Linked DNA regions of Homo sapiens: regions 2, 3, 4, 5, 6 and 7 are each linked to region 1. The links come from fine-mapping of genetic effects on plasma protein levels. Region 1 holds a variant in brackets. A gene starts in each other region. All regions are shown on their forward strands.

Region 1 (4,193 bases):
CAATGGCGCGATCTTGGCTCACTGCAACCTCCACCTCCCAGGTTCAAGCAATTCTCCTGCCTCAGCCTCCTGAGTAGCTAGGATTACAGGCATGTGCCACCACGCCTGTCTAATTTTGTATTTTTAGTAGAGACGGGGTCTCACCATGTTGGTCAGACTGGTCTCGAACTCCCAGCCTCAGGTGATCCACCCGCCTCGGCTTCCCAAAGTGCTGGGATTGCAGGCATGAGCCATCACCCCGGCCAGTTTCTGTCTTAGACGTCTCTCTTGATTTTTATGAATTGACATGATTTCTTGTTTGGTTGTGAATGCACACTGCCCTAGTTTTCAATAAGCCCATCATACATTTTCACCAGGTCCTCTATAGGTGCTTTTTCTATAGTGTTAACATCATCATCTTCACTGTCACTGTTATCACGATCACCTTGGTTCAGAACCAACTCAGATATTTCACCCTCAGTTAGTGAAGGAACAAGGCTCATTAAAAACGTCTTGAATATCCACTTCTTCCAGCTCTGACACAGACTACATATATATATGTATATATATGTATATATGTATATATGTATATATGTACATATGTATATATGTATATATGTACATATGTATATGTGTATATATGTATATATATGTATATGTGTATATATGTATATGTATGTATATTGTGTATATATGTGTATATATGTATATATATGTATATATATGTATATATGTATATATATGCATATACGTATATATGTATATATGTATATATGTATATATATGTATATATGTATATATATGTATATATGTATATATACGTATATATGTATATATGTATATATACGTATATATGTATATATGTATATATACGTATATATGTATATATGTATATATGTGTATATACGTATATATGTATATGTATGTATATGTGTGTATATATGTGTATATATGTATATATGTATATATGTGTATATATGTATATATGTATATATGTATGTGTGTGTATATATGTATATATGTATATGTATGTATATGTGTGTATATATGTATATGTATGTATATATGTGTATATATGTATGTATATATGTATATATGTATGTATATATGTATATATGTGTATATATATACACACACACACACACATATATATATATATATATTTTTTTTTTTTTGAGACGGAGTCATGCTCTGTCGCCCAAGCCGGAGTGCAGTGGAGCGATCTCGGCTCACTGCAACCTCCACCTCCTGGGTTCAAGCGATTCTCCTGCCTCAGCCTCCCAGGTAGCTGAGACTACAGGCATGTGCCACCACGCCCAGCTAATTTTTTTGTATTTTTAGTAGAGATGGGGTTTCACCATGTTGGCCAGGCTGGTCTCGAACTCCTGACCTCAGGCGATCCACCTGCCTTGGCCTCCCAAAGTGCTGGGATTACAGGCGTGAGCCACCGCACCCAGCCGACACAAACATTTTTGATGAAAATTTCAGCTGGGGAATGAGCAAAATCGGTATCAAGGAATAACAAAATCTTACAGTCCTCATTCAGTTTAGTTTCTTTGCAGTGAGCACATGCCACTAGTACAAAATGTTTGTGAAAACAATTAGAAAAGCTGTCCCTGATGATCCCTGCCTTTTTGTTAGCAGAACAATGGACTGGTAAAAAATTCACTCCTTGAAAACAGCAAGCTTTTTCACCTGCCTGTCACAGTAAGTTTACATTTATGTGTGCCTGCTGCATGAGCACATTGCAACATAGTTATTCTGTCCTTGGCATCCCTAATTCCTGTAGGGGCTGTCTCACCAGCTGTAGTCAATGTATTTCTGGGGTAATAACAGCAAAACAATAATGTTTCATCAGCATTATAGACTTGTTCTGCTGTCAGATTTTCATCAGCAATGACCTTGGCACACTAGTTAATTTCTCTGCTGCTTCATGATCACCACGAATCTTTAAAAAAATTTAATGCTGTGTCTTCTCTTAAATCTGCACCTAGCCTGCTGAATATTCACAGTTCCCTTCAATATTCAGTTCATCGTGATAGATCTTTGCTTGTCTCATGATAAGCAGGCCATTAAGTGGCATATGCTCACTGCAATGCTAATGGATGCACTCTTTCAATACATGATCAAGATCTTCATTTTCAGCTTTGCAGTGTTTTTCTATTTTTCATTAACTTCTATCCATCACTTTTAGCACAGAAGTTCAACAGTTTATCCATCTGTTTCTTCAGGTCACATATGGTGGTCATTCCAACACCATACTGTTCTGTAAGGCATTTCACACTTCCACCGCCATCCAATTTTTCCAACAGCATGACTTTCTGTGCTATAGATAAACATAAGTGCTTCTTTTTTTTCTTATCACTGTTACCCATAGGGGTATCTTTTTGGCATTTCCAACAATATCTTTAAACACAGAGCAGAGAATAAGCAAAAAAAAAAAAAA[A/C]CACAGTGAGTAATGCACATAGGTCTTGGCCCTATATGGGGCATTGTGGGGAACCTGCCATTGGTGCATCCAGCTGCATATGTACAATTTTATTACCCTTTACAGGCACGCTTGTTGGGGGGTAATCTGGGCATGCACAGAAAAGATATACCACAGCTGAAAGGGGCCGGGAGGGTCTTTTTTTCTGTTGGGGATGCTGAATAAACCATGTTGTGCAACTGCATTTTGACTGCAACCTATCACATGAGGTCAGGTGTGGAATGTTCCATTTCTGGCATCATGTGAGCACTCGAAAAGTTTCAGATTTTGGAGCATTTTCAAGTTTGGATTTTCAGGTTAGGGATGCTCAACCTGTAATTGATTTCTGTCATCTAATCATAGTAGTTAACACCTCCAATACAATGTTGAAAAGTAGTGGATAGTGAACATCCTTGCCTTATTTCCAATGCTAGAATTCCCTATAGTGTATCCCCATTAAATAAGAAACTAATTTTAGGAATAACATTCAATTATGTTAAGAACGTATTTTTTAATTCCTATCTTCCTGAGTGCTTTATGACGAATGTATGTGGATTTTTTTCCAAAGGCTTTCTCTGCTTTTAAGGAGGTAATAATATTATCTTTTTTCTTTTTTCGAGACGGAGTCTCGCTCTGTCGCCCAGGCTGGAGTGCAGTGGCTCAATCTCGGCTCACTGCCAGCTCTGCCTCCCGGGTTCATGCCATTCTCCTGCCTCAGCCTCCCGAGTAGCTGGGACTACAGGCGCCCACCACCAGGCCTGGCTAATTTTTTGTATTTTTAGTAGAGACGGGGTTTCACCGTGTTAGCAGGATGGTCTTGATCGTGATCCGCCTGTCTTGGCCTCCAAAAGTGCTGGGATTACAGTCGTGAGGCACCGCGCCCGACTGTTTTTTTTTTTGTTTTTTTTTTTTTTTTTTTTTTTTGAGAGGAGTCTTGCTCTGTCTCCCAGGCTGGACTGCAGTGGTGCAATCTCGGCTTACTGCAAGCTCCGCCTCCCGGGTTCACGCCATTCTCCCGCCTCAGCCTCCCGGGTAGCTGGGACTACAGGCGCCCACCACCACACCTGGCTAAATTTTTGTATTTTTAGTAGAAACGGGGTTTTAGTAGTTTTAGTAGAGACAGGGTTTCACCGTATTAGCCAGGATGGTCTCGATCTCCTGACCTCGTGATCTGCCCGCCTCAGCCTCCCAAAGTGCTGGGATTACAGGTGTGAGCCACCATGCCCGGCCAGCCAGGCTGGTCTTGAACTCCTGACCTCAGGTGATCCGCCTGCCTCAGCCTCCCAAAGTTCTAGGATTACAGGCTTGAGCCACAGTGCCTGGCCTATATAATTTTTAAAAAGCAATATGGACAAAAGAATAAGACCCAGAGGGGATACACACACATACACACACAAAAGGGTAGTCTCTAATTGGTAGGTGTCTAGTACATAGGGTCTATGGTTCAATCTGTCCCTTTTGGTATAAATTAGCATGCCAAGATACAGTTTGAGTCAGCCAATCCTCAAGAATTACATTTTTATCTGAGGTACATTTTAGAATCTAATGTAGTGTCATTAGACACATGTGCAAATTTTTTTTTTTTTGAGATGGAGTCTTGCTCTGTCACCCAAGCTGAAGTGCAAGGCATGAGCTCGGCTCACTGCAACCTTTGCCTCTTGGATTCAAGCCATTCTCCTGCCTCAGCCTCCTGAGTAGCTGGGATTACAGGTGTGCGCCACCACGTCCAGATAATATTTTGTATTTTTAG
Region 2 (4,193 bases), not on the chromosome of region 1:
TATCAATCATGTTGTAAAGAATTCACATGTTTGTGACAAGGAATCCTTCCACAATGGAACATGGCATGTCTCTCCCATTTACTTAGAACTTCTTTAACATCTTTCTATAAAGTTTTATTATTTTTCACATAAAGATCTTGCATATCTTTTGTCAGATTTATCCGTAAGTTTTTGTTCTTTTGAACACAGTATCTTTTTTGAATATTATCTTTCATGACCTTTTATTGCTAGTCTATAGAAATGCTCCATTAGTTCCTTTTTTAAACAGATAGATTTCAACTACTCAAGACTGAGACGGGAGTAGATGTGTCAACACGCACTTGGTAAATTAGATATTCGGAACAGACATTCAGCAGTAGACAATGGCATGGCCGTACTGATTACAAAATTCTTGAAATACTTCCATAATGGGGCCCCTTGATTTCTTTCCTGTCACGCTGGCCATACTGACCTCTCTCCGGGGACAGGCTCAGATCTCTCCAAGGTCCAGACGCCACTGTATTAACACCAGGCGTGGCACGGGGCCGCAAGCCTTGCTCCACTAGGAAGGCCAGTGTCTGTTCCGGGTGTTTGATTCTCATGCCTTGTGAGTTGTTAAATATCTTTAATATTACTCCTTAGGTTCGTATGTTGGTAGTAGCTAAACACCAAGGGTGAAATATTAATCTGAGTGAATTCTCAACAAGAGATGATCAGTTTTGGGGTTCAAGGAGGGAGTCGGGAGATCTGAGATGTAACTAAGGAGATTCTATTCAGCACTGGCCTCTGATAATCCCCCCTCCCCTGAAATCCCTGCAGCTTCACCACACTCCTCTTGAAGCTCCTGCAGGCACTTCAAACGCAACACGTTTTAGATTGAACACATTATCTCTGTCTGCTAAATCAGCTCTCTCTCTGCCTCCCCTAATTAGTGGAAGAGCTTCTCCAATGATCTTATCCCCTATGGTAGAAAATTCAAAATCATCCTAGACTGTGCCTCACCCTTATGTCCTCTTTTTTTTATCACATACCAAGATCTGACAATTCTATTCCATGAAAAAAATCTTTTGAGTCTGACCTCTTCTCCAATCCCATTGCAGCTGTCTCCTAAGTTTTGGAATAGTTTCCTAAATGGTCTCTTGGCCTCTGTATTCGTCTGTTTTCACACTGCTGTGAAGAAATACCTAAGACTGGGTAATTTATAAAGGAAAAAGGTTTAATTAACTCACAGTTCTGCATGCCTAGAGAGGCCTCAGGAAACTTACAGTCATGGCATAAAGGGAAGCAAACACGTCCTTCATAAGGCGGCAGGAGAGAGAAGTATGAGGAACCAAGTGGGAAGAGCCCCTTATAAAACCATCAGCTCTCACGAGAACTCACTCACTATCATGAGAACAGCATGAATGAAACTGTCCCTATGATCCAATCTCCTCCCACCAGCTCTCTCCCTAAACGCATGGGGATTATGGGGATTACAATTAGAGATGAGATTTATGCGGGGACACAAAGCAAAACCATATCAACCCCCAACCTCTTTTGCCCCTCCAACACTGCTCTTGGCATTCCAGTTCCTGCCTGGTCCATAGCCTACTCCTTCTTCATCTGTGGAAGGGAGGGTAGTGGGAGTCATTAGCCTGGGCAGGGAGGAGTGTTTTATCACTACACTGTTTAGAATGGTGCCAATACAAAGCACATCAACTTTCAGCAAGTTTATTATTGGGTTTAAATTCTCTACACACGATGCACTGCTTTTGCCTACACCTGGACAGTGTTCCCACTCACTCTCCTTAGTATGATGCTGGAGATAATATGATCTGCCATGAAGGTTAAATAAAGCAATGTTCACTGAGAACTTAGCCCAGGCCCCTGCACATGCTGAGCATTTTGTTAATGTAACAATGATTAGTAATAGCATTGCTATTGGTTCCCCATCTCTGGCAAAGCCTTTCATGCTTGGCCTCCCTCACTCTCTTTCACCTTCCTAAACCCTACACTCCAGCTATGCCAAACTGTTTACTCTGCCTTGGACACACCAAGTTCCTCAAGCCTTTGCAAATACTCCTTACGCTCCTAGAACAATGGATGTCAATTCATCATTTAGGATCCAGCTTACAGTCATGCTTTCCATGAAGCCTTCCTCAAATTAGCCACACAAAAGGAGTGACTCCTCCCTGTATTCCCATGACCCTCTGCTCATGCCTCCTCTTTAAAGCCTGCCTTCACTGGAGTTCCTGGAAGGGAGAGTCTGTTCAGCACTCATCTCTGTATCCACAGTCACCAAAATTGTAACTGCCCCATAATAAATTCCCAATACTTGCAGGGATTTTGCTTCTTGGCTTGTTTTGTTTTGCTGGAATGAATGAATAAGTAAATGGGAACGATTTTGACTTCACCCTAAGCCTAGCTAAAAGTTTGGGTAGTGACAGTTTTGGTTATTTTGTGTAACCTGATAGTGGATCCCCTTTCTATGCCAAAAAAAAAAAAAATCCCCCAATACTAGAGTACCTGTTTTCCTAGGGAATTGACCTCAGCAACTGAAGGAGAGGCGATTCAAAGCAGGGAGTGTGATGAATAGGTCAACTCTGTCCTCGCAGCCGTCCCTGAGAGGGCGCTGTTCCCAAATCGAAGCCCCAGAGGCGGAGACTGAGACACCGGCACTCTCCCACTGGACTGGGTCAGCATCCCTCTCCCCGCGCGGCCGCAGGTCTAGAGCTGAGCGCCTGCCCACAAACATGGCGGCGCCCTGCGCGGCTTCCCGTCGCCGCAACCGTGGGGCCGGCCCTGCCTTGCCAGTACTAGGGGACTTCCTCTGCGCGCCGGCTTCCTGCCCAGCTGGCATTTAAACCACCGCCTGGGGCTGCAGGATGCTGCTGCGGATGCAGAGCTGTCCGCGGGCTGGGCAGCGTCGCCGTCTCCCCTGAGCCGCCTCGGTCCGGCAGGAGCGGAGCCGAAGCATCCCTTGCTGCACGCAGGGCAGAGCAGGCGAGGGCTGGGGGCCGATCGGGGACCCCGGCTTGGGACCCCGGCATCTGGCAGTTTCCTTGCAGGTTCAACTTTAATTGCCAAGATTTCACCCCTCCTCCTCAAGCCCAGATTATTTATCCTCCCTCCGGCCTGGGCTGCTGGATGCAGCAGCGGCTGGGCTTGGTCCCAGGAGCAGGGAGAGTGCGCTCCCGGCCCTCCTAGCCGCGTGCCCGGGCCATGGTGCGGCTGAGCCCCGCGCTTGGGTGAGGCGGCGGCGCGGCTCGGAGCCCGGCGGACCGGTCCTACGGGACATCTTCCCCTGAGGAGGAGTCTTCCCCTGGGGCTGCGTGCCGGGGGCGAGCGGCGGCCGCGATGTTCAGCTGGCTGGGTACGGACGACCGCCGGAGGAAGGACCCCGAGGTTTTCCAGACGGTGAGTGAGGGGCTCAAGAAACTCTACAAGAGCAAGCTGCTGCCCTTGGAAGAGCATTACCGCTTCCACGAGTTCCACTCGCCCGCCCTGGAGGATGCCGACTTCGACAACAAGCCCATGGTTCTGCTGGTGGGCCAGTACTCCACTGGGAAGACCACCTTCATCAGGTGAGCCGGCCCAGGGTCCTGGCAGCCCACCCCGGAGCCCAGCGCCTAGTCCCTCCGGTCACTCCTGGTGCTCCATCCCAGACAGGGGACCAATGGGAAGCCTTCAGTTGAGGGCTCTGAAGAGATCTGTGTTTGTGCAGGCGTCAAAATCTTACCCCACAATTTTTGCTGGTCCCCCTTCCCATCCTACCCAATACCTGTCCACTCTACTTGGCCCTTGGCTGTGGTGGTCAACCTGAAGTATTCAAGTGTAAAGCCATTCCCAGTCTCCCCATCTTATGGATGATGAAACCGAGGCCCAGGAGGCACAATGGAAGAGCTCCTGGTCTCTGGAGCGCCTTATGTTGGTGGGGATGTCTTACGTCTTCACTTTTTAGCAACACATCATTCACGGGCAAAACCTCTTCCCTTGTTTTTCAAGGGGCTTGGCACTCACATGGGGGCCTCACAGTTGCAGCTGAGTTCTGATGGGTGCGGGCCTGGGAACGGAGGTGGCCTGGGGATGCTACTTGTCCTCCTTTTATCATTTCCTTCTCTAAAGCAGAGCTCCTGTGTATATATCTTGGAGACTCAACAGAAGCTGAGTCCAGAAGCAGAATGCTTTTTTTTTCCCCTTTCTCTTATTTGATCTTAATGGCTTAATAATAATAT
Region 3 (4,193 bases), not on the chromosome of region 1:
AAGGCAAAAATGGCAAAAATCCTCCTTCAAGGCACCGCTCCCTCGACGCGCACCGCCACTCCGACTCCCTCAAAACATTGGTCGCAAAGCCCCCCCGCCTGGTCCTCCATGCTCAAGAATAGGGTGGCAAGGCAGGAAAAGACTCACACATCCCAGCCCCCGGCCCCTCAGGGCAGCCTCTGTGTTTCTAACTAAAAGCCTCCTACCAGGGGCAAGACCAAGTTCGGGCGCTTCCCCGCATGGAGAAACGCTGGCCCCACGGCGCCCGGCCCCGACGCGCTGGCCCTTTAAAGGCGCGGGCTTCCTGCGCCCGGGGCCCCTCCCACGCCACCGCCACCGCCACCGCCACCGCCCGCGCCCGCCCCCGCCGAGGGTCACACTTGAACTTTAGCTCGCCCCGCGCGGCCAGGCGCCGGCGCTCCGCAGGCGGTGGCCGCCCCTTCGCACGTGTCGGAGGCACCACCTCGGGCTCGGGACGCCGGGCCCCCGGCACTCGAGGCCACTCCGGAGAAAACCAAAACAAAGCAAAATGCGCACCGCCTCCAGAAACTGCCCGGCAGGCCCTGCACCGTCCCCGGCCGGTCGCGCCCTGCCTGTCCCCTCCACCTGCAGCCCGGTCCCGGGGCAGCGAGGCTCCGGGGCCCCTCGCCGCGCCCTCCCCCGCCGCGCCCGGCGGAAACAGCTCCGCGGCGCGGCCGGAGAGAACCCGCCCTCCCCCCGCGGAGGTCCGGGAGGGAAGGGGCAGCCGAAGCAGTCGGCGCGGGCCGGGGGTTGCCGCTCCCAGCGAACCCCTTTCTCCTTTCACTGGCAAACTTTTCGGCCTCGCTCTGACGTCCACTTCTTGGCGCACTTTCTTTACTTAGTTCCCCAACGAGCCCCTTACCGCGTCCCACGCGAACTCCTGACTGGCGCGCACGCACACCTACTGCCGTCCCCGACCGGACCCGGGCGAGGCCACCGCGACCACCGCTTCTCGCCCGCCCTCCTGGGAACGCGCTGCCCTCCTGCTCCGCACCTTCAGGCCGAGCAAACCTGCACAGCTGCGCCCTCGCCTGACCCACCGCGCCCCCAAGGTCCGGCCGCGCGCCGAGTCCACTCACCTTCCAGCCCGCCGAGCTGTTGCTGTCACCCTTATCCTTGAAGTAGGGCACGCTCTTGACCATCCACTCGTAGATCTGCGACAGCGTGAGCCGCTTCTCCGCCGAGCTCTCGATGGCCTTGGTGATGAGGTCGGCGTAGGACAGGTTGCCCCACGCGTTGCGGCGGGACGAGCTGCTCTTGCGCGGCTGCCCCGCGAGCGGCCCAGCGGCGGCGGGGGGCACCGGCGGGTGCTGCGACAGCGGCCCGGGCGGCGGGGGCTGCGGTGGCGCTGGGTGCAGGCAGCCCGCCTCCGGGCCCTGGAAGTCCCCGCACAGCCCCCCGGTGGCGGCCGCGGCGGCCGCCGCCGCCACCGCCGCCGCCACGGAGCCGGGCGCCTGCGGGAAGTCCTCGCTCTCCTCCAGCAAGCTCAGGTTGCTCATGAAGTCGGCGCTGACAGCGGCAGCCGAGGCCGAGGGCAGGCCCGCCGCGGCGTCGGGGTTGGCAGCCGCGCTGCCCGACGGCGCCGGGCTGGAGGTGGCCGAGTTGGACTGGCTAAACTCCGGCCTGGGCAGCGGCCAGGTGCACGAGCGCGGCCGGGGCAGCGGCTCGAAGTCCGGGTCGATCTCCACCACCTGAGGCGCCTCGGCCATGGTGACCCCCGCCCCTCCCCCAGCCGCAGGAGAGCCAAGAGGGGGAGAACGCAGCACTGGGGGCGGACGGGGAGGGGGCGCGAAGGGACGGTCCGAGATTTGGGGGAACGAAGCCGGTGCGGCGAGCGGACGGAAACTGGGAGGAAGGCGCGGCGGAGTGGAAGCGCGAGCCCAGAACTTAACTTCGCGGGGCCATCCACATCGAGGCTCCTCGGGGTCCGCCGCACGGACTGGACGGCCGGCCAGAGCCGCCGGGCCGGGGCAGAGCCTGCGCCGCGCTCCAGCTGACAGGGCCGCGGACGGAAGGACGGACGGACGCCGCGGGCCGCTTGCTCTCCCCAGCGGCGCGCCCGCTGCGCTGCTGCCTGTTGAATGTGGCGGCTGCGGCAGCGGCTGCTGCGACTACCAGGCCGCCCGACTTACGGGATCTGCCGCCGCCCCCCGCCCGCGGCGGCGCGCGCGCCGGCCCGCCCCTGACCGACAGCCCGCGCGGCCAATGGGCATGCGGCACCGCCGCCCGGGCAGCCAGTGGGCGCCGGGCTGGGTGGGGCCCGGTTTTCCACGGGGAGGCGGCGGTGGGCTGGTGGGGGGTAGTGGGGTGTTTTTCTCTTTCACACACTCACCTCCTTTTTTTTTTTTTGGATCTCTATTATTTTCTGGTAATTCTCGAGTGTTTCTGTGATTCTCTCGCCTTCTCAGTGTTTTGATTGCTAGGAAGCAAACCAGCGTGGAGGCGCCGGCGACACTTTGTTTACTACGGAGCAGCAGAGCCGAGTACTCGGGAAGCCCGGGTGGGAGGAGGCGCTCGCTGCTCCCTGACCTCCGCTGCGGGCCGAGCCCGGCGGGCTGGCAGGGCAGGGGGCCGAGGGCCGGGGGCGCGGGGTGGGCGGGCGGAGGCGGCCGCGAGGAATTCTACTCAATCGCTCCCTCCTGGCTCCACCCACGATGTCTTTGCTGAACGACGTGGGGAATCGGTGGGTTTTGTTTTGGTTTAATGTTTTCTTTCGCTGCGATCTGTCAAGTCCTCCGGCCCCCTCGCGAGCGGCACACGCCCCCCACCCCCGGCGCCGCGGCTCCTGCAGTCGAGTCCGCGCCGAGGGACCCTTCTCCGTGCCCACCGGTCCGCACCCCCGGGCTCAGCCTGTGCCATTCGGTCTAGCCAGAGGCGCGTCACCCAGCCGGCAGCCCCCAGCCGGATTCACTGTATTCTTGACCTTTTTTAAAATGCTAGAAATGAGGAACAGGGGCTCCGGCGCGGGGAGGAGATTATCTGGCCTCCCTGAACACACGAATCCAAAGGCACCCGCGACCGCATGCCCTCCGTGGGAACCTCTTCCCCTGGGCGGGAATCTCCCGCTCCGTCCACTAAGTCCAGGGCCGGCAGCGAAGGGCTCAGGAGCGCAGTTAGAGAGAACCAGGTCATTTTATTACTTATCCCTAATTAAATTTAGCTGTTTGTTACTTCTTTTTTATTTGCAACGGAAGTGATCGGGTGTTAAGTAAAAACGCAAGGGGGGCGGGAGATAGGACCAAAGCCTTGGGGCGCAGCCTGCCCCACCCCCAAATTCCTTGAGGCTACTTGCTGTGTGTGTCAGTCAACCCCCCACCCACACCCCACCTTTCCTCATCTGGGCTGCAGGTCCAGGACATCCTGTCAAGGATCAGTGGGGCCAAAGGTGGGAAGATAATGGCCCTTGTGTCTCAAGCAGAAGAAACAGTTTTCCAGTTTTGTTTTGTTATGCTTTTGCTTTTTTAGGAAGAATATGGAAGGCATTTCCTTTTAGAAAGATGGGACCACTTAGGATGGAAGATGGACAGTAGGGTTTTAAATATCTTGTCCAAAAGGACAGCTTCCAACTCTTGTTTTTTAATCCCTTTCTTTCTTACAAGTAATTCTGCAATGGAAAAAGTGGCATCTAGAGAAAATTAGTCAGTTGGACAAGAGGTTGTTGAAAAAATAAAAGAGAAAAGAGGGGAAAAAAGGAAAAATTAGGCCTCTTACAAAAGTTAAAAAGATTGAGAGAGATTATCTTTCTTCTTTTATATTCTCACTATCGTCTCTCTAGTCCGGGCTCCTGTTTCTTCATAATCTATTTATCACAACAGCTTCTTGCTGATACTAGGCATGGGTGGGGTGGGGAGCGTGAGCCGGATGGATTGGGGACGGGCGGGGACTGGTTCCCACCCTGGTCTTGTGGTCTCTTCACGTTTACTATCAAATTTGGACAGTCTGGGCCTCCTCTGACAGCCGCTAGGGGACCTCAGTAACTCAGATGATGAGCTCAAAGGCAGGCCCCCAAAGTACAGCTGTTGCTTCCCCCCACCTTTCCAATTACACTCTGCAGAAGCAGCCCCCGATCCAGACAGCCGCACCCTAAAAATAGGCGGTGCCCTACTGGATCATTCTTGGCAAAGGAAGCCAGCTTCAAATTTGGCCTTGCCTTCATTTCTATTCCGGTTTTT
Region 4 (4,193 bases), not on the chromosome of region 1:
CCTGTGCATTATAAGATGTTTAGCAGCAGACTGGGAGCAGTGGCTCACACATGTAATCCTATAACTTTGGGAGGTCAAGGGAGGCAGATCGCTTGAGTCCAGGAGTTTGAGACCAGCCTGGGTGACATGGTGAAACCGTGTCTCTACAAAAAATGCAGAAATTAGCCGGCAGTGGTGGTGCACACCTGTAGTCCCAGCTACTCAGGAGGCTGAGGTGGGAGGATTTGAGCTGCAAAGGTAGAGGTTGCAGTGAGCTGACATCACACCATTGCACTCCAGCCTGAGCAACAGAGCAAGACCTTCTCTCTCTCTCTCTCTCTCTCTATATATATATACATATATGTGTGTGCGTGTGTGTGTATGTATGTTTAGCAGCACTGTTGGACACGATGCTAGTAGTACCCACCCCCGTTTCCCTGTCATCACAATAAAGCATCTCCAGACATTGCCAAATATCCCCCGGAGGACAAAATCGTCCCTGGTTGAGAACCACGGAATTATATCAATGACCATCACAACCCTAAATGAACTAATGAACTCAACCATACATTTTCTCCACCTCTGCCCTCAACAAGTGACTGCTGCTTGAGAAATTTACACAGGAGGGCAGAAAATGGTGAGTTCATTTTTGCCCATATTAAAAAGGCCCTCAATATTGCTTACCAGTCCTACAACATTCTTCTGTCAACTTGTTGTATTACTTTCTACAATATTCCAAATCTTCTCAGCTTTCCTTTAAACTCCCAATACCACCTCCTTTTCTATCAGAAGATGACCCCATCTTCAACTTCACAGAGAAAACAAGTCAGCAAATGAGAACTTTAACTTCCTGTTACTAAACATACAGAAACATACTTCCTCTCATAATTGGGGAAATATCTCCTCTCTCTCTCTTTCTCCCTCCCTGCCCTCTTCCAAAACCATTATTCTTACCAGTGTTTCGAACTGCCTCTAAACTGCCTCTATTCTTACCCTTTCAAGATCTTTGCCTACTGACTATCCCTTCTCTTCCTTTATTCAACCATTTTTTTCTCAGTTGAATCTTCCCTACCATGCTCAAGTTTCTCCTGTCTTAATTCTAACAAAAATCAAAAAAACAAAAACAAAAAATCTTGATCCTTCATCATTCTCCCTCCTTCCTCCCTGTCAAGGCCAAACTTTCCAAAAGCATTCTACAACTTGTCCCCATCTCTACATCTCCCCCACCTCCAAACTACTAAGTTGTTTTTTTCAACCCCAGCATTCCAACAAACAGCTTTCACTGAGATAATCAGTGACCTCTGTGTTATGAAATTAAAAAAAACATTTCTCAGGCTTCATCTTCCTTGATCCCTTAGGAATAGACTACTTACTCCTTGAAGCACTTTTTTTTTTTTTTTTTGAGATGGAGTCTGGCACTGTCGCCAGTGATAGACATTATGATAGTAATGTAGCTGGGATTACAGACACCCGCCACCACACCCAGCTATTTTTTCTTTCTTTTTTTTTTTTTTTTGTAGGGGGGACGGAATTTCACTCTCGTTGCCCAGCCTGGAGTGCAATGGCATGATCTTGGCCCACTGCAACCTCCGCCTCCCAGGTTCAAGCGATTCTCCTGCCTCAGCCTCCCGACTAGCTGGGATTACAGGCGCCTGCCACCATGCCCGGCTAATTTTTTGTATTTTTAGTAGAGATGGGGTTTCTCTATGTTGGCCAGGCTGGTCTGGAACTCCTGACCTCGTGATCTGCCCGCTTCAGCCTCCCAAAGTGCTGGGATTGATTACAGGCGTGAGCCACTGTGCCTGGTGAAGCACTTTCTTTTCTTGATTTCCAGCAGTTTATTTTATTCTTAGAGGTGCATGGAGGGGTTCCTGCAGCAAATAGTTTACAATAATCCTCCATCTGCTTAAAACTCTTCAATAGCTTTCAGTGCCCCTAGTACAAAGTGGTCTAAAATTCCAAGGCCTTCCAAGATCTAGCGATTGTTGGCCTTCTAAAGCTTTCTTTCCTCTACACTCGGGGATGTACGATTAGCACTAAGCCTCTAACAAGGATGAACTACTAGAAATTTCCAGAAGGCGTTATGCTGTTCTCGACATAAGCTGTTCCCCAGAGCCTGGAAAACTCTAGCTCTTTCTCTGCCGGATTTCCGGGGGAACTCCTACTTATCCTTCATGACTCAAGTCACTTCCTCCGGGAACCCTTCCAGACACCCCTAAGAATAAAACGCTTTGTTCATTATCAGCCAAAGGCGCCTCAAATTTTCTATGTGCTATGCACTGTATTCTATCCACTATAATTTGTTTACATATCTATATCTTAGTCTAGACATATTGAAAGGCGATGAAGAGCAGGGAAAGCACTGTATTCGCTTTCTTTTCTTCAGCGTTCATCCAGCACAGTGCCTGGCATACGGTTTGCCCTCAGTAAATGTTTATTGCATGAACACCTCCCAGCTTCGGGCAGGACTGAAATCTATCCGGTTAACTAGTGAATTCCCAGACTCTCCGTCTGCGTGGCAGGGACATTTAAACCCCCAGCACCGTGATTGGCTCCAGCTGCAGGGGTGTGTCTGTGTCCGCGGCGAACGGGAAGTGAGCAGGCGCGCGGGCTCGGCGCGCGCAGGCGCGACTAGGGTGCAGCGCCAGGTCCGGTGTTGGGGTGTCCGAGTTGCCGCCGGAGAGGAGTGGCCTCGCCCGCTTGGTGAGTCTCCAGGAGTGGGACGGAGGGAGCTGGCCGGGATGAAGTCTGAGACTATGTCCTGAGAAGAAAGAGTGTATCGTATTGGTTGAAAAGTTGGTGGGGTCGGGCTTAAGCGGAGGAGGGGGCTCTCTGGCCCTTACTCGGCAGATGGGCCCGGAGAGAGGACGGGAGGTGCCGGGAGAACATCGAGGGACCAGTGGAGGAAGGGTAGCTGGATGGTAATTCTCTGGACCCTTCCTCGAAATTAAACAGAGATCACTTTCCGCCCCTCACCCTTACTGTGTTGCTGTAGTTGACATTAATAGACTGCCTGTATGGTGACCACAGTGATCAGATAGCTCTGAGATAATGGCTTGAGGAAGGACTCTGAGGTTCCTGGTATTGGATAGCCCTTGCTCTCTAGAAAGGTTCAGCCTTACCTCGCGGCATTACTGCACAAATTAGAGGATCAGGAAAAGAATGAATTTCACAATTCGGGATTGGAGTGGTGGGGGGAAAAAGTACTGTAAAGTGTAGTTTCATCTCGTCCTTTTTTTCTTCTTTAATCAGTCACCACAATGTTAGGAAAGGCAGTTGATGGTAGGAGGAAACGTAAAGACATAAAAGTGGGAGAGGAAAAAAAAGTCAAGAAGGGAGTATCATTTTGCCTTTTGCTATTTGTCATCTCCTGGAATGGGGTCTGTATTAGTGCGTTCTCACACTGCTATAAAGAAGTACCCAAGGCCGGGCTTGGTGGCTAACGCCTGTAATCCCAGCACTTTGGGAGGTCGAGGAGAGAGGATCATATGAGATCAGGAGTTCGAGACCAGCCTGGCCAACATGATGAAATCCCATCTCTACTAAAAATACAAAAATTAGCCAGGCGTGGTGGTATATGCTTGTAATCCCAGCTACTCCGGAGGCTGAGGCAGGAGAATCACTTGAACCTGGGAAACAGAGGTTGCAGTGAACCGAGATCGTGCCACTGAGCTTCAGCCTGGGAGACAGAGTCAGGCTCCAACTCAAAAAAAAACAAAAAGCAAAAGAAATACTCGAGACTGGGTAATTTATAAAGGAAGGAAGTTTAATTGACTCTCAGTTCTGCATGGCTGGGGAGGCCTCAGGAAACTTATAATCATGGTGGAAAGCAAAGGAGAAGCCAAGCACCTTCTTCACAGGATGGCAGGAGAGAGACAGTGAAGGGGAAAAAGCCCCTTATAAAACCAGTATCATGAGAACAGCATGGGGGAAACCACCCCCATAATCCAATCACCTCTCACCAGATTCGAGATGAGATTATGAATAGCCAAACTGTATCATTCTGCCCCTGGCCCCTTTCTTTCTTTCTTTCTTTTTTTTTTTTTTTGAGATGGAGTCTCACACTCTGTCACCCAGGCTGGAGTGCAGTGGCGCGATCTTGGCTTACTACAACCTCCAACACTTCAAGCGATTCTCCTCCCTCACACTCCTGAGTAGCTGAGACTACAAATGTGTGCCACCAAACCTGGCTAATTTTTTTTTTTTTTTTTTTT
Region 5 (4,193 bases), not on the chromosome of region 1:
GGAGAGCAAGGCAGGGGGGCCAAGCCAATCAGAAAGGGGAGGGAGAAGGTGCAGGGTGACAGCCAGGCTCCTGCCATGGACAGGGAGCAGTGAGTCAGGTCTGCAGAGGTAAGAGGAGCAGCCGTGTGGGTGGGGGGTGGGGGTGGGGTGAGTCACAGCCCAGCCCTGCCCAGCCTAGGAGGAGAGGGCCAGGAGAATCCAGGCTGTTCAGGTCATGGGCAACCCCAGAGGGCCACTGGGAGAGGATGAAGTATGGGAGCCCAGGCTCAGTTTTGGAGTATGTGCTTGATTTATACAAAGTAGAGAGAGTATCCAAGGAAAGCTCCTGGGAATGAGGGAGAAGGGCAGCTGAGGAGCAGGTGGAACTAGAACAGGTGGGCATCTGTCCAACCAAATATAGTCATTCCAGGGTACAGTGCTGAGTCCTTGCTCTACTCTGGATAATCTCCTCAGGTTTGGAGGCAGGAGAGCTGGCAGGCTCTGGACTCTGCCCTGTACCTGTACTTGGCCACAGCCAAAGAGGCTGGTTGGAGGATCCTACACAGCCCTCCCCATTTGGAGTCTCCTCAGGAATGCAAGGTGCTCAGTAAGCTGCAGGTTTCCGGTAGCATTCACAGATATCCAGCATTTTAATACAGCCCCCTAGGGGCTCAGTGCTCACCATTCACAGCCTCATCTAGGGCGGCCAAGAGCTCCTCATTCCCCTCTGTTTCCCCAATCTGGAGACAGGTGGATGGAGGAGGCCAACACTGCACACTTTCTAGAGATGTGCCTGGGCATCTCCGCATGTGTTACCTCTATTTTATATATAATAGTCATTTGATATGGGAATTAGAACTGGCGCCCATTTTTACATAGTAGCTCTAGGGAAAGCATCTCAACCATTCCTTGTTCCTATCACCCAGCTTACCTAAGAAGAACGTAACAACCCCAGACAACACGTCTGATTCAATTTGCCCCGGAGTACCCAGAAGGGCAGCAACCCAGCAGGTGAGGCAATGACAAGAGAGAGAGAGTGGGACCTATATTCCAGGATCCCCCAGTGCCCATCAGGCCGATCAGCTTTTCCCCGAGGTTCTCCATGAATACCCTCAACCCACAGTATTGCCCAAACAGCAAGAATCTTGGATCTGCTTATTCTTCAACAGCCCACCAAGGTCCAAGGATGGGGGGCCTCCACACCCACCTCTCAAAAGGTCCAGATCTGCCTCTTGCAAGTCACGGACTTTCCGGTCCCGGCCGCCTCCTAGGGGTAGCAGCTGGTCCGTGGATACAGTGGGAGGGTCCGGGTTGCTGGTTCCAGCAGCTAGCCCTCTCCGAAGCCGCTCCAGGCTCTCGCCAGTCACCAGTGCCGAGAGAACTGCGGGCGAGAGGCCAGGCCGCATCAGACACCCGCCCAGACCCCTGACCAACACGCACCGATGCCGACGCCCGTCCGCCAGAGCGCAAGGGCCCCACCAAGTGGCCCGTGCCGGGTGCGCTGCGGCGACCTTCCCCCATGCCCCCAGCACAACGCCCCCATCCCCCCGATCTCCGGGGGCGTCGGCAGCCCTCTTACCTGCAGCCAGAAAGAGCTTCAGCACCACCGACGGCAGCAGCTTCATGGTCCCGCACCGAGAGGAGGCGGCGAGGCACCAGTCACTTTCGAAGCGGCGGCCACTGGGCGCTGGCACCAGAGCTGGGCGGCGGAGCTCAGGAGATTCCGCCGGGCACCGTCTGCCGCCCGCCTCTGCGTGCAAGCCTGGCCGGGACCCAGGCGCAGCTCGCTCTTCTTGAGTGTCTTGTCTTGCTCACTCAGCCCGCCCGCGCGGCCGCCCGACCCCGCGCGCCTAGGTCAGGCCAGCCAGCAGCGTGGCCCGCGTAGCTCCTTCGGCCGAATGAGCGCTGCCCGGCTCGCGGCCGGGAATAAGGCTCCAGGAGGCGCGGAAGCTCCGCCCCGCCCGGCGCCGCCCCCTCCCTCCTCCCGTGCTGGGAAGCTCGCCCGGCTCGCGGCGCCGGCAGCGCAGCCCCCGACCCCGCGGGCGCGGCGGAGGACTGGGCGGGAGGAGAGGGCGGCGTTCACAATTTTTGGGACCAGGCCGAGGCAGCCGCGGCCTGATTGTGGGTAGGGCTACTGACCGGCAGGTGGCGGAGAGCGGTTCCTACCTTTCCCCAAACGCCTGTCACTCTGCAGCCTTGTGACTGACTGCTGAGCTGAGTTCTGTTCCGGGCCTGGCCTCTTGCTTCATCTAAGCCCCATACCAGGGGTCTCCATCCCTGTCACCCTCTAAGTTTCAGAAGCCCACCTTTTGGCCTACCAACACGGCAAGTATCAAATAATAATTAATTCATCTATCATTTAAAAATTAGACACGTGAATGCCAGCCGTTCTCATAAACCCGAGATAACCAGAGTTGAAGTTGCAGGCACTTAGTATCAATCCAGCAAAAGCAAAGGAAGTTAGTACTCTCTTAGTCTCTGGAGTGGCTTCCTCCCATCTTCCCTCAGGGGACATTAGGATTTTTGAACTATGGGTTGTAATTCCCAGGCTTCTGAGATTGGAGAGACACAGGTTGTGAAACAAGCCTTATTCTTTTCCTTGCCTTTGACTGCCACCTTTTTCCTCAACATAAAAAATGAGCCACCCTCCCATAGGACCCAGCTGGCTAACCTAGATTGCTGTTTCACAGACACTAGGTGTTTCTCTTCCAACCCATGTGCTTTTGCAGGGGTCTTCTGGAGTCACTGTCCTGACCCAAAGAAATGAGTGTCTCAGTAGGTATTTCAGTTTCCAGGGACGTGCTGGGGAGAGAGTTGTTTGACACAGGGCTGGGTTGGCTTTCAGAGCCCTGAAATTGTGCCAGATAGAGCACTTGCCGGATTCTGCCTGTGTGTAGGGATAAAAACAGGCCTGCTATTTATACACAGTCTATCCCACTGTCCCTCCCTATCCCCACCTTTGCAGGGGTCAGTCTGGCCCTGCCCTCTTAACTTGCTCCAGTAACCTAGGCCTAGGTTTCCATAGTGCACTGGAATCACTACAGACCTGAGTTTGAATCCTGCCTTTGCTACTTACTGTGTGACCTTGGACAAGAAACTTAATTTCACTGAGCCTCAGTTTTGACGTCTCTCAAATGGAAAAAATAATAACAATAATAATAATGACTACTTTGTAGGGAGCTTTTTGAGAAATGAATGCGGGAACACATAAAAGTAGTTAGTATAGTGCCAGGCACACTATAAGCTCTCAATAAATGTGACCCATTATTATTGTTGCTGTTAATAATAATCACTAAGCACTTGACCACTCTATTTCCTTAGAGGCCTCTTTTCTCTCACTTCTCTAGATCGCTTGCCTTCCCCTAGGCCATATCTGAGGCTTTATGATATAGTTGGGCTGGTTTCAGACAGAAGCTCACCTGTCACCTATTTGGCTAAGAGCCACTGTTAGATTATCCTTTTGGGTGATGAGTATCGGGCCTAGGACCTCAGTGCATGGTCACCGCCCAAGCCATGACTTTGCCCTCCCTCAGCAGCTGCCTGGCCACCTGCTTCCCCAAAACAAAGCCACCTTGGGGTCAAGGCTCTCCCCAGGGGAGGGTGGAGAGAAACACTTCCTGACACATGGTCAAATCACCCCCTTTCCCCCACCCTCGCCAGAGTCACACCCTGCTCTCTTGCCCCAGCCTGCCTTTCTCCCTTCACATGCTCTGTCCTTCCGCCTTCTCACCCCCACATCAGCCTCAGTCCCATTCATGGGGCAACTCCAAACTTTCATCACACCTGGAGCCTCACCCCAGCTAGGTTTGTGTGTCAGCCAGGTTTTACAGGAAGGGCCTGAAAAAAGAAGATAAAAAGCTTGAATTGGATTTGGGACAGTCACTTCCCCTCTCAGAATCTTGGATGTCTCTGAGCAAAGAAAAGGAATCACAATTCATGCTGAGGCAATCTCATTAACTCAATTATATCATAAACATTAACTGAACATTTTTGGGGGGCACTGGGGACATAGAAATAAATAAGACAGCCCAGGACCTGCTTTCACAGAGCTTATATTCTATAGTAGACAGGCAGCACATTAAGGAAATAAACAAGGAAAAACATATCCTATAGTGATAACTGCTAAGATGAAAGTTAAAATACAATGATGTGCTGTAGGATAATATGTTCCAGTGCCCAGGATGACACTTTAAACTGATTAGCAAAGCCTTCTC
Region 6 (4,193 bases), not on the chromosome of region 1:
GTGAGAAGTCACTCAATGCCTGCTTTCTTGATAGATTTGGAAGCTAGACTTAGGAACCCAGCCTACCTCTATCCTACTGTTCATTGATTCATTTAACTTACAAATATTGACCAACTACCAAGTACCACCATCTTAAGCATCAACGTTTGCATATAATGGTAGGTATTTTTAGTGAGCACTAACTCGGTACTAGGCACTCTACTAAGCACTTTCATTATTTTCCTATGCGCTGGATACTATTATTATCCCTGTTTTACGTATGAGGAAATTGAGACAGATTAAATAACTTGTCCAGGAATTCACACACAGACAGTTTAAATCTTAACCCCTGATAACATGATGAAGTATTTGTTTCTTTTTTTTTTTTTTTTGAGACGGAGTTTCGCTCTGTCGCCCAGGCTGGAGTGCAGTGGCGCGATCTCGACTCACTGCAAGCTCCGCCTCCCGGGTTCACGCCATTCTCCTGCCTCAGCCTCCCGTGTAGCTGGGACTACAGGCGCGCGCCACCATGCCCGGCTAATTTTTGTATTTTTAGTAGAGACGGGGTTTCACTGTGTTATCCAGGATGGTCTCGATCTCCTGACCTCGTGATCCGCTCGTCTCGGCCTCCCAAAGTGCTGGGATTACAGGCGTGAGCCACCGCGCCCGGCCGAAGTATTTGTTTCTAACAAGAGCATTCTGGACATTAAAGGGCCTTAGAGTATGAGAGAAAAAAGCCAGAAAAAAAAAAGGAATAGTAATAATAATTTTTTAAAAAGTAGAAATAAAAAGGTAAGGAGTTAACATCCATTAGATTCCATTTTCTATTCAAATATGTATATTTACATACAGTACTGCTGAATTGACTCACAGTTCTTAGGTCCTATAGAGGAGTGCAGTGAAAAGGAAGACAATTTACACAGTACAGAGCTGAACATAGGACTTACAAACAAAAAAAAAGTCAAGGAATACAAAGTAGCTTTCCCAGGTGTAAAGTACCGGGTCTAGAATTCTATGAGGCTAGGGAGAAGATAAACGACAAAAGCTATAAGAGATCAGAATGAAAAGAGATCCACAAGCCTAAGAAGCCCAGGCCCTTGAGGAGAACCATGAATTTGAGCAGGATTTCACTAATTCCTTTAAAAAGTAGCCATTGCCTCAAAGTACGACTCCATCAGCATAGGCAGGAAAGTGGGAGTGAGGAAAGGCTTAGAGTTTTCCAGCCTGGCTGGGGTCAGACAATTTGCCTGGGGAAATAGTGGGAGCTGAGGTTGAAAAGACCGATTGGCTTCACGTTTGTGGCAGGCCTTGTCCAAAAAGCAATAGGAAGTCGTTGAAAGGTTTTGTGCAGGGGAGCGACAGGATTAAGGCACTACTTAGTAGGAAGTCATATCAAAAGCAGCAACCTGACAAATGGCAAATACGACAGAAGGAAAAAAAATAACAGGAATTTTCTTCACAATGACTCGACTTTGAGGTAATAAATGCCTGAGCCACATTGGAAGCAGGGGTCTCAGAAGGAAGGCGCAGATGGGAAAGGCTTTTCTGGGCGGTGGCGTTTCAATGCAAGGAGGGCGCTTGAATCACTGACAGACTTCAAGTTAAGGGAGTTTTCGTGGCTGAGGTTAGTAAGTCACACGCACAGCTCTCCAAAGGCATGTATGGGGAACGCCAGCCTTGGCTAAAAGACTGATTCAAGTTATGTCCGTCACCCTGAGCAACCAAAACCACCCACTACAGGGCAGGTGACCCCACAAAGCAAACCAAGCCATCTGGTCCACGCTCCCCACCTCCCGGAGGGAGATGGAAAAGTTTCGGGAGTAGTCCCCGGCCAATCGGAAAGACATTTTTTCATTCCTCAACCACTACTCTCAGGTGCTCCAGGGAGGGAGGATGACTTCCTGACGGTCCTCCTGCCGCTCCTCCCTCGGGCCAATTATGAAACTCTGGGCACTCTTGACCTCACCCCGTTAGGGCCCGGGAGGGGCTCCCTAGTATAAAGTTCGCAGCACCAGACAGTTGAGCTCACTTGCCTGATATTTCCAGTGTCAGAGGGACACAGCCAACGTGGGGTCCCTTCTAGGCTGACAGCCGCTCTCCAGCCACTGCCGCGAGCCCGTCTGCTCCCGCCCTGCCCGTGCACTCTCCGCAGCCGCCCTCCGCCAAGCCCCAGCGCCCGCTCCCATCGCCGATGACCGCGGGGAGGAGGATGGAGATGCTCTGTGCCGGCAGGGTCCCTGCGCTGCTGCTCTGCCTGGGTAAGTTCTCCCCCTCTGGCTTCCGGCCGCCCCAAAGAGGAGACAAATAAGGAAGGCTCCTGTGCATTTGTCATTCGACAAGTACGGAGTTGTCTCCAGGTTCAAGTGTGCTCTATTTAAAATTACGTCTTGTTTTGTGAGTCTGTCTTCCCCTATGGTGGGACTGGGGTGGGGGGGACTGGGGATCGATGTTAAAATGCTTTTTATTGGTGAATTAATTATTGGCATATATGTTATGCATGGATTGAAATATCTCCTTATTAAACAAAATAAAAAGTTGTTGAAAAAGCTTTTTTTTTTTTTTTGAAAAGTTGCCAGTCCTAGAAATCTAAAGGCCTGGAACGCACTGTTAACATTTCATGTCTTGTTCCTTTTTGTTGGAGAGTGGGGAATAGAAACTAGCGTAAGAAATTTTTTGGAGGGGGGAAAAAGCTTTTCTCCTCTGTCTTGCGCTCAGTTTTCTAAAACCTAGCCTGGTTTAGCTTTCCCGGAGGAGCTGGTATGCGCCAGTGCCAGTTGGCTGAGCTCCAGACACAAGAGAAATAAAACACTGGTCGAGGGTATCTGGAGCAGAAGGGCCCTGGGCAGGTCCTGGCGCTCCCCACCGCCCTTCGCCCCTACACCTGCTGCTTGCGTTTTTCCCTGCAGCCTCCCAAGCAGCCTCTGGAGCAAGCGTTCTGCACTTGCTGCTAATTGCACTCCATAGCCTGTGATCGCTGAGGGTATTTAAATGCCAGTCTTCCTATTTGAGATGATTTAGTTCAAGGGGAAAAATTTTCTAAATAGCCTTTCTGTTAAAAAAAAATTACTTCTTTCCAATTCCTTAAACTTCAGTTTAAGGAATTTGAAAGAGTTTGAAGTCGTATATGAATATCTTAATAAAAAAATAAAAGTTACCACCAGTCTCATATTCTCCCTGGAGTTGGAATGAGGCTGATTCCCCAGACACTCTAACTCTACCTGTGAAGGATGTGACTGTTAAATTATTATTTTGGCACACCTTATCTCAGGGGTTGAGAGACCTAATGAAATGCATACTATGCATAATTGAAACTTACAAGTCTAAGTCCAGGAACACAAGTGGAAACTAGATATGTGGTTTCTGCCAAAACTGAGCTAAGAAAGACTTGCTAGAAGATTCTCAGTAAACAATGTGGCTTTGCTGTCTTTGTTTTGAAAAGAATTAAATTAGAAAGGTGACAGTCTTCCTAGAGTTAGAAATTAACCTCGAGGTCAGAATAACTTAGCACTTATTATTTTCCCCACATGTAAGGTTGCATCTGAACAATGCACATGTCTGTTCTGGGTGTTTCATTGAATATTCTAATTTGAGACAGCCAGAGCCTGTGAATAACCTGGTTACTACCCACTAGTGTGTGTGTTGTGTGTGTGTTTGTTGTCATGAAAGTGCTTACCTCCTTCATTGCATTACTTAATTATAGTTCATCTATTTCGTCAGCTGCCAAGCCCATTTCCAAATGAGTTAGGTCAGTTTCTGTTTTCCCAGTTTGTTTGGATATTTCTCTGCCACTAGGAAAGTTCCTGTTTCAAGTTCTGTATTATATCTCTAAACTCTATTCAGTTATGCAGAGCCCATAGCCTTATTTTGGCAAGACCACCTGTTATTTCTGAAATTGCCTTCTTTCCCCCAAACAAAATATTTCCTAAAAATACTTTTCCCAAATCTTGTCCTTCCCCCAGCAAAAAAGAGCGAGACATTTATTTTAAATTTTAGCATACATGTTATAACTGCTTTATGTAGTTATGACTAGGGAATAAAGTTCCAGCCTCCACCCTTAACACATACAGATTTAAATTGCTATGCACAATCATTTGGTTACTTTTAAATTTTACACTTGTTTAATATTGAGGCTCTTGTTTTATAAATTGGGGAACTGTGACCCAAGTTCACATAGAAAAATAGTGACAAAGTGAGAGTCCACACTTGGGCTTGCT
Region 7 (4,193 bases), not on the chromosome of region 1:
AACCTAAGAGGGCTCTCTTCAGGTTCCTCAATTCCAACATAGACATTCTCCTGCCCCAGAGTGCAGACTTGGAGGTCATATCTGCCCAGGTGATGTGGACAGGCAAACCCCCTATTAGAGCCTCAATTTCCTCAATAGCTAATGCCTAGATCCCCTGTGGTAGGCAAGATATCCTCCTCCCTCCTCCCTCCTCCCTCCCTCCTTCCTCCTCCTCATCCTTCTCCTCCTCCTCCTTCTTCTTCTTCCTTTTTGAGATGGAGTCTCACTCTGTTGTCCAGGCTGGAGTGCAGTGGCACGATCTCAGCTCACTGCAACCTCCACCTCCAGGTTCAAGTGATTCTCCTGCTTCAGCCTCCTGAGTAGTTGGGATTGCAGGCGCCCACCACCACTCCTGGCTAATTTTTGTATTTTTAGTAGACACGGGGATTTCGCCATTTTGGCCAGGCTGGTCTCAAATTCCTGACCTTAAGTGATTCACCTGCCTCGGCCTTCCAAAGTGCTGGGATTACAGGCGTGGGCCACAGAGACCAGCCAAGGCAAGATTCTTCTGCTTGCAAGTACAACAGACCCCACTTCAAACTAGCTTGGGCAAAACTAAAAGGAAGTTTCTTGTTTGTGTAACTGACAAGCCCAGGGTTAGAACAACAGGTTCAGGTATGGCTTGGAACCAGGGTCTCAAATGATGTCTCCAGGACCCAGACTTCCTCTCGGGTCTGATTTTCTCAGCACTGCCTTTGCTCTCAAGTAAATTCTTCCCTGTCACAGCTCCCATTACATCCTCCCATTGTGGCAGCCCTAGTGAGGGCTGGAAAAAAAAGAGAATGCTTTTTCCCCCGTGGTTAAACCAATAAAAATCCCAGACCAGCGTTTCATTGGCTGGATCTTGCTCAAATGCCCGCCTCTCTGCCCAATCTTAGACTCTGGTTGGCTGGGTCTGGATCATTTGTCCACTGTAAACCAATCCCTAGCTTATGGTTTGCTGGATCTAGCACACATTTTCTTTCTTAAAAGAAAATTGAGAATGTTACCCTATGAAAGGGACGGGTGCTGGTCAGGCAGCTTTGCAGATGTTTCCCACATGACATGATTGCTTGTGGGCCTCTGGTTTAGCGTGACCTTTTTCTCAAAGGAAGTCCAGAGCCTGGAGCCGCGTCTCAGCCCCACCCAAGCCCGGGAAATGTGCAACGCTGTGGCTCCACCCCCTGTGCCTGTCCATCAAGGCAGAGCCCACATCCAATTGGTCCGTCTGCTCCATTAGAAGGCGGTCCTATAGCTCAGTAACTGACTTCTTTCTAAGACCAAATGGAGCAGCTGGCATGAAGTCATTATCAAATTGATCTTTCTTGGAGACACAGGATTTGGCAATATTTTAGGAAACAGAACTTTATCCTCACCAGATCTCGACGCTCATTTCTCAACATTCAAGTTGTCTGAAATTTAACCACATATTTTTAACCAAAACATCATCACTTTCTGCACATAAGACAGTCTTATACTTGTTTTTTCTTCTTTTCTTCTTCCTTCCTTCCTTCTTTCTTCTTTCTTCTTTTTTCTTTTTTTTTTTTTTTTTTTGACGGAGTTTTGCTCTTGTTGCCCAGGCTGGAGTGCAATGGCGCGATCTCGGCTCACTGCAACCTCCACCTCCCGGGTTCAAGTGATTCTCCTGTCTCAGCCTCCCGAGTGGCTGAGATTACAGGCGCCTGCCACCACGCCCAGTTAATTTTTGCATTTTTAGTAGAGACAGGGTTTTATCATATTGGTCAGGCTGGTGTCTCTAACTCCTGACCTCAGGTGATCCGCCCGCCTCAGACTCCCAAAGTGCTGTGATTACAGGCGTGAGCCACCACACCTGGCCAGAAAAAAATAAAAATAAAAATGTATGCCTGTAATCCCAGCACTTTGGGAGACCAAGGCTGGAGGATCAGTTGAACCCAGGAGATCAAGACCAGCCTGGACGGCATATTGAGACCCTCATCTCTACAAAAAATAAGAAAAATTAGACTGGGCCACGGTGGCTGATGCTTGTAATCCCAGCACTTTGGGAGGCCAAGGCGGGTAGATCACGTGAAGTCAGGAGTTCGAGACCAGCCTGACCAACATGGGGAAACCCCGTCTCTACTAAAAATACAAAATTAGCCGGGGGTGGTGGTGCATGCCTGTAATCCCAGCTACTTGGGAGGCTGAGGCAGGAGAATGACTTGAACCTGGGATGCGGAGGTTGCAGTGAGCTGAGATAGCGTCATTGCACTCCAGCCTGGGTGACAAGCACAAAACTCCATCTCAAAAAAGGAGAAAAATTAGCCAGGTGAAGTCGTGCCCACCTGTAATTTCAGCTACTCGGGAAGCCGAGGACGAAGGATTACTTGAGCCAGGGAGGTCAAAGCTGCAGTGAGCCATGATCACGCTGCTGCACCCCGGCCTGGGCAACAGAGTGAAACCCTGTCTCAAAAAAAAATTATTAAAAAACATTTAAAGAGACAGGGTCTTGCTATGTTGCTCACGCTGGTCTCAAACTCCTGGCCTCAAATGATCCTCCTACCTCAGCCTCCTGGGTAGCTGGGACTACAGAGCGAGCCACCATACCCAGCTACTTTGTGCCTTTTGTAACCCCAGTTTTCAAGATCAGATAAACACAAAGTGAACTAAGACACCTTCTAGACAGAGTGCGGGCATGTGAACGCATGCTTGTGTCTATTTTTCTGAGTGTCACAATGCAAATAGTATGCAAATGAGTTTGTGATGTGTGTCCGTGTGCAGACCTGTGTGTGTACATGTGTGAGAGAGAGTATCTGGGTAGATAAGCAGATGGATGGATGAGAATGAGAAACCTGGAGTTTCCAGGTGCAGAGGAAACTGTTCCTCCAGGGTTCTTTTTTGAGACAGAGTTTCCCTCTTGTCACCCATTCTGGAGTGCAATGGTGTGATCTCCGCTCACTGCAGCCTCCGCCTCCCAGGTTTAAGCGATTCTCCTGCCTCAGCCTCCTGAGTAGCTAGGATTACAGGCGCTCGCCACCACGCCCAGCTAATTTTTGTATTTTTAGTAGAGACGGGGTTTCACCATGTTAGCCAGGCTGGTTTCAAACTCCTGACCTCAGATGATCCACCCACCTCAGCCTCCCAGAGTGCTGGGATTACAGGCGTGAGCCACCGCACCCAGCCTCCTCCAGGGTTGTATAAAAGCAGGGGATTTGGGGAGGGAGGGAAGGATGTGGGTCTGTCCTCAGTCCCAGATGTGGGTGTGGCGTTCCAGTGGTTAGTTCCCGTTGCCTCACATCTGTGCTTTTCCTCCACGGGGACTTGTAGAAGTAGAAGAACTTCTTGGGGGTGGAGCTGAGGGGTGGAGCTGAGGCTGGAGGGAGGAAGGTGTGGGGGGACCCAGGGGTCCTGTCTCCAAGCCTGGTTGCTCTTACGCGAAAAGTTGGGACACTGAGGTGTCACAGCTTCTCTTTTGAAATGGAGAGGAGGTAGGAGGGTGAGGTCCATCCAGGTAGACACAGACACACACAGAGACCACAGCTTCCTGTAACATTTCCGAGTGTCGAATTCCATCTCCCGGTCTAGAGGTTTTTCTTCTTGGTCCTTCCTGAGACCTCTTGGCTCCCAAGAGCCTCTTGATCGGGGCAGGAATGAGGGTGCCCCAGGGTGCGAGAGTCGTGGATCCCTGAAAAGAGGAGGCTGCTCCCCCTCTTTCTTCCCCCCACCTCCAGATTTCCTCATCTGCCCACACCTTCCGGTGGGCGGGGACGTGTATGGACAAATTTGCGGGCTGGGGACCATGGAAGTGGAGGAAATCTACAAGCACCAGGAAGTCAAGATGCAAGCACCAGCCTTCAGGGACAAGAAACAGGGGGTCTCAGCCAAGAATCAAGGTTAGGGAACTCGAGGTGGAAGGGAGGGGTTAAGAAGGAGAGATTGGGGGGCCGGGGGCTTTTGCTCATGTCTGTAATCCTAGCACTTTGGGAGGCTGAGGCGGGAGGATTGCGTGAGCCCTGGAGGTGGAGACTGGCCTGGGCAACATAGGGAGACTCTGTCTGTAAAAAATAAAAATAAAAAAAGAAGGAGAGTTCAGATGGGAGAGGTAAGGGGTCAAAGGTGGGGGCCGGGGGCTCCTTCCCCTCCAAGATGTGTGGATGTGTGTGTGGATGTGTGTGTGGTGTGATCACTCAAACTCTCACACACCCGCTCCACTTAAC

Alleles and levels. Alleles are on the strand shown, and positions count from the first base shown. The strength of an association depends on the size of the effect and on how common the allele is.
As copies of C replace A in region 1, the plasma level of the protein whose gene starts at base 2,846 in region 2 goes down (weak association).
With allele A in place of C in region 1, the plasma level of the protein whose gene starts at base 2,159 in region 3 is higher (moderate association).
For the plasma level of the protein whose gene starts at base 2,603 in region 4, A is the high allele of the variant in region 1 and C is the other (weak association).
For the plasma level of the protein whose gene starts at base 1,879 in region 5, allele C in region 1 goes with a lower level than allele A (moderate association).
With allele C in place of A in region 1, the plasma level of the protein whose gene starts at base 2,007 in region 6 is lower (moderate association).
For the plasma level of the protein whose gene starts at base 3,784 in region 7, A is the low allele of the variant in region 1 and C is the other (moderate association).

The links. PIP is the chance, under the fine-mapping model, that this variant and not a neighbour inherited with it causes the effect. The UK Biobank Pharma Proteomics Project read protein levels with antibody pairs (Olink). The fine-mapping took linkage between variants from a reference panel, not from the people measured, so its PIPs are less certain.
Region 2: it holds the start of EHD3, and the variant in region 1 is fine-mapped to the plasma level of the EHD3 protein (UK Biobank, PIP 0.96).
Region 3: FOXO1 starts here. The variant in region 1 is fine-mapped to the plasma level of the FOXO1 protein (UK Biobank, PIP above 0.99).
Region 4: it holds the start of SNAP23, and the variant in region 1 is fine-mapped to the plasma level of the SNAP23 protein (UK Biobank, PIP 0.96).
Region 5: it holds the start of HBEGF, and the variant in region 1 is fine-mapped to the plasma level of the HBEGF protein (UK Biobank, PIP 0.95).
Region 6: EREG starts here. The variant in region 1 is fine-mapped to the plasma level of the EREG protein (UK Biobank, PIP above 0.99).
Region 7: MCEMP1 starts here. The variant in region 1 is fine-mapped to the plasma level of the MCEMP1 protein (UK Biobank, PIP above 0.99).

The regions. Positions count from the first base shown.
Region 1 is chr9:96,428,212-96,432,404 of GRCh38, forward strand. No RefSeq gene overlaps it. Among named protein-coding and RNA genes, the nearest start is that of ZNF367, 12 kb to the left of the region's middle. The variant A/C (reference allele first, on the strand shown) is at 2,426.
Region 2 is chr2:31,231,307-31,235,499 of GRCh38, forward strand. EHD3 (EH domain containing 3) reads left to right here and starts at 2,846. Exons shown (of 6, transcript NM_014600.3): 1 at 2,846-3,542. The coding sequence starts at 3,316. It also overlaps a transcript of CAPN14 not described here.
Region 3 is chr13:40,664,483-40,668,675 of GRCh38, forward strand. It overlaps FOXO1 (forkhead box O1), which reads right to left and starts at 2,159. Exons shown (of 3, transcript NM_002015.4): 1 at 1,101-2,159. The coding sequence starts at 1,730. RefSeq lists silencers at 278-787, 1,308-1,357, 1,448-1,587, 1,818-2,347 and an enhancer at 2,998-3,047.
Region 4 is chr15:42,493,032-42,497,224 of GRCh38, forward strand. It overlaps SNAP23 (synaptosome associated protein 23), which reads left to right and starts at 2,603. Exons shown (of 8, transcript NM_003825.4): 1 at 2,603-2,682. RefSeq lists enhancers at 2,276-2,819, 2,820-3,363.
Region 5 is chr5:140,344,725-140,348,917 of GRCh38, forward strand. It overlaps HBEGF (heparin binding EGF like growth factor), which reads right to left and starts at 1,879. Exons shown (of 6, transcript NM_001945.3): 1 at 1,559-1,879; 2 at 1,187-1,360. The coding sequence starts at 1,604. RefSeq lists silencers at 1,794-2,073, 2,114-2,163.
Region 6 is chr4:74,363,139-74,367,331 of GRCh38, forward strand. It overlaps EREG (epiregulin), which reads left to right and starts at 2,007. Exons shown (of 5, transcript NM_001432.3): 1 at 2,007-2,237. The coding sequence starts at 2,171. It overlaps LOC105377276 (a long non-coding RNA gene), which reads right to left and starts at 2,203. Exons shown (of 3, transcript NR_188415.1): 1 at 2,013-2,203.
Region 7 is chr19:7,673,307-7,677,499 of GRCh38, forward strand. It overlaps MCEMP1 (mast cell expressed membrane protein 1), which reads left to right and starts at 3,784. Exons shown (of 7, transcript NM_174918.3): 1 at 3,784-3,869. The coding sequence starts at 3,815.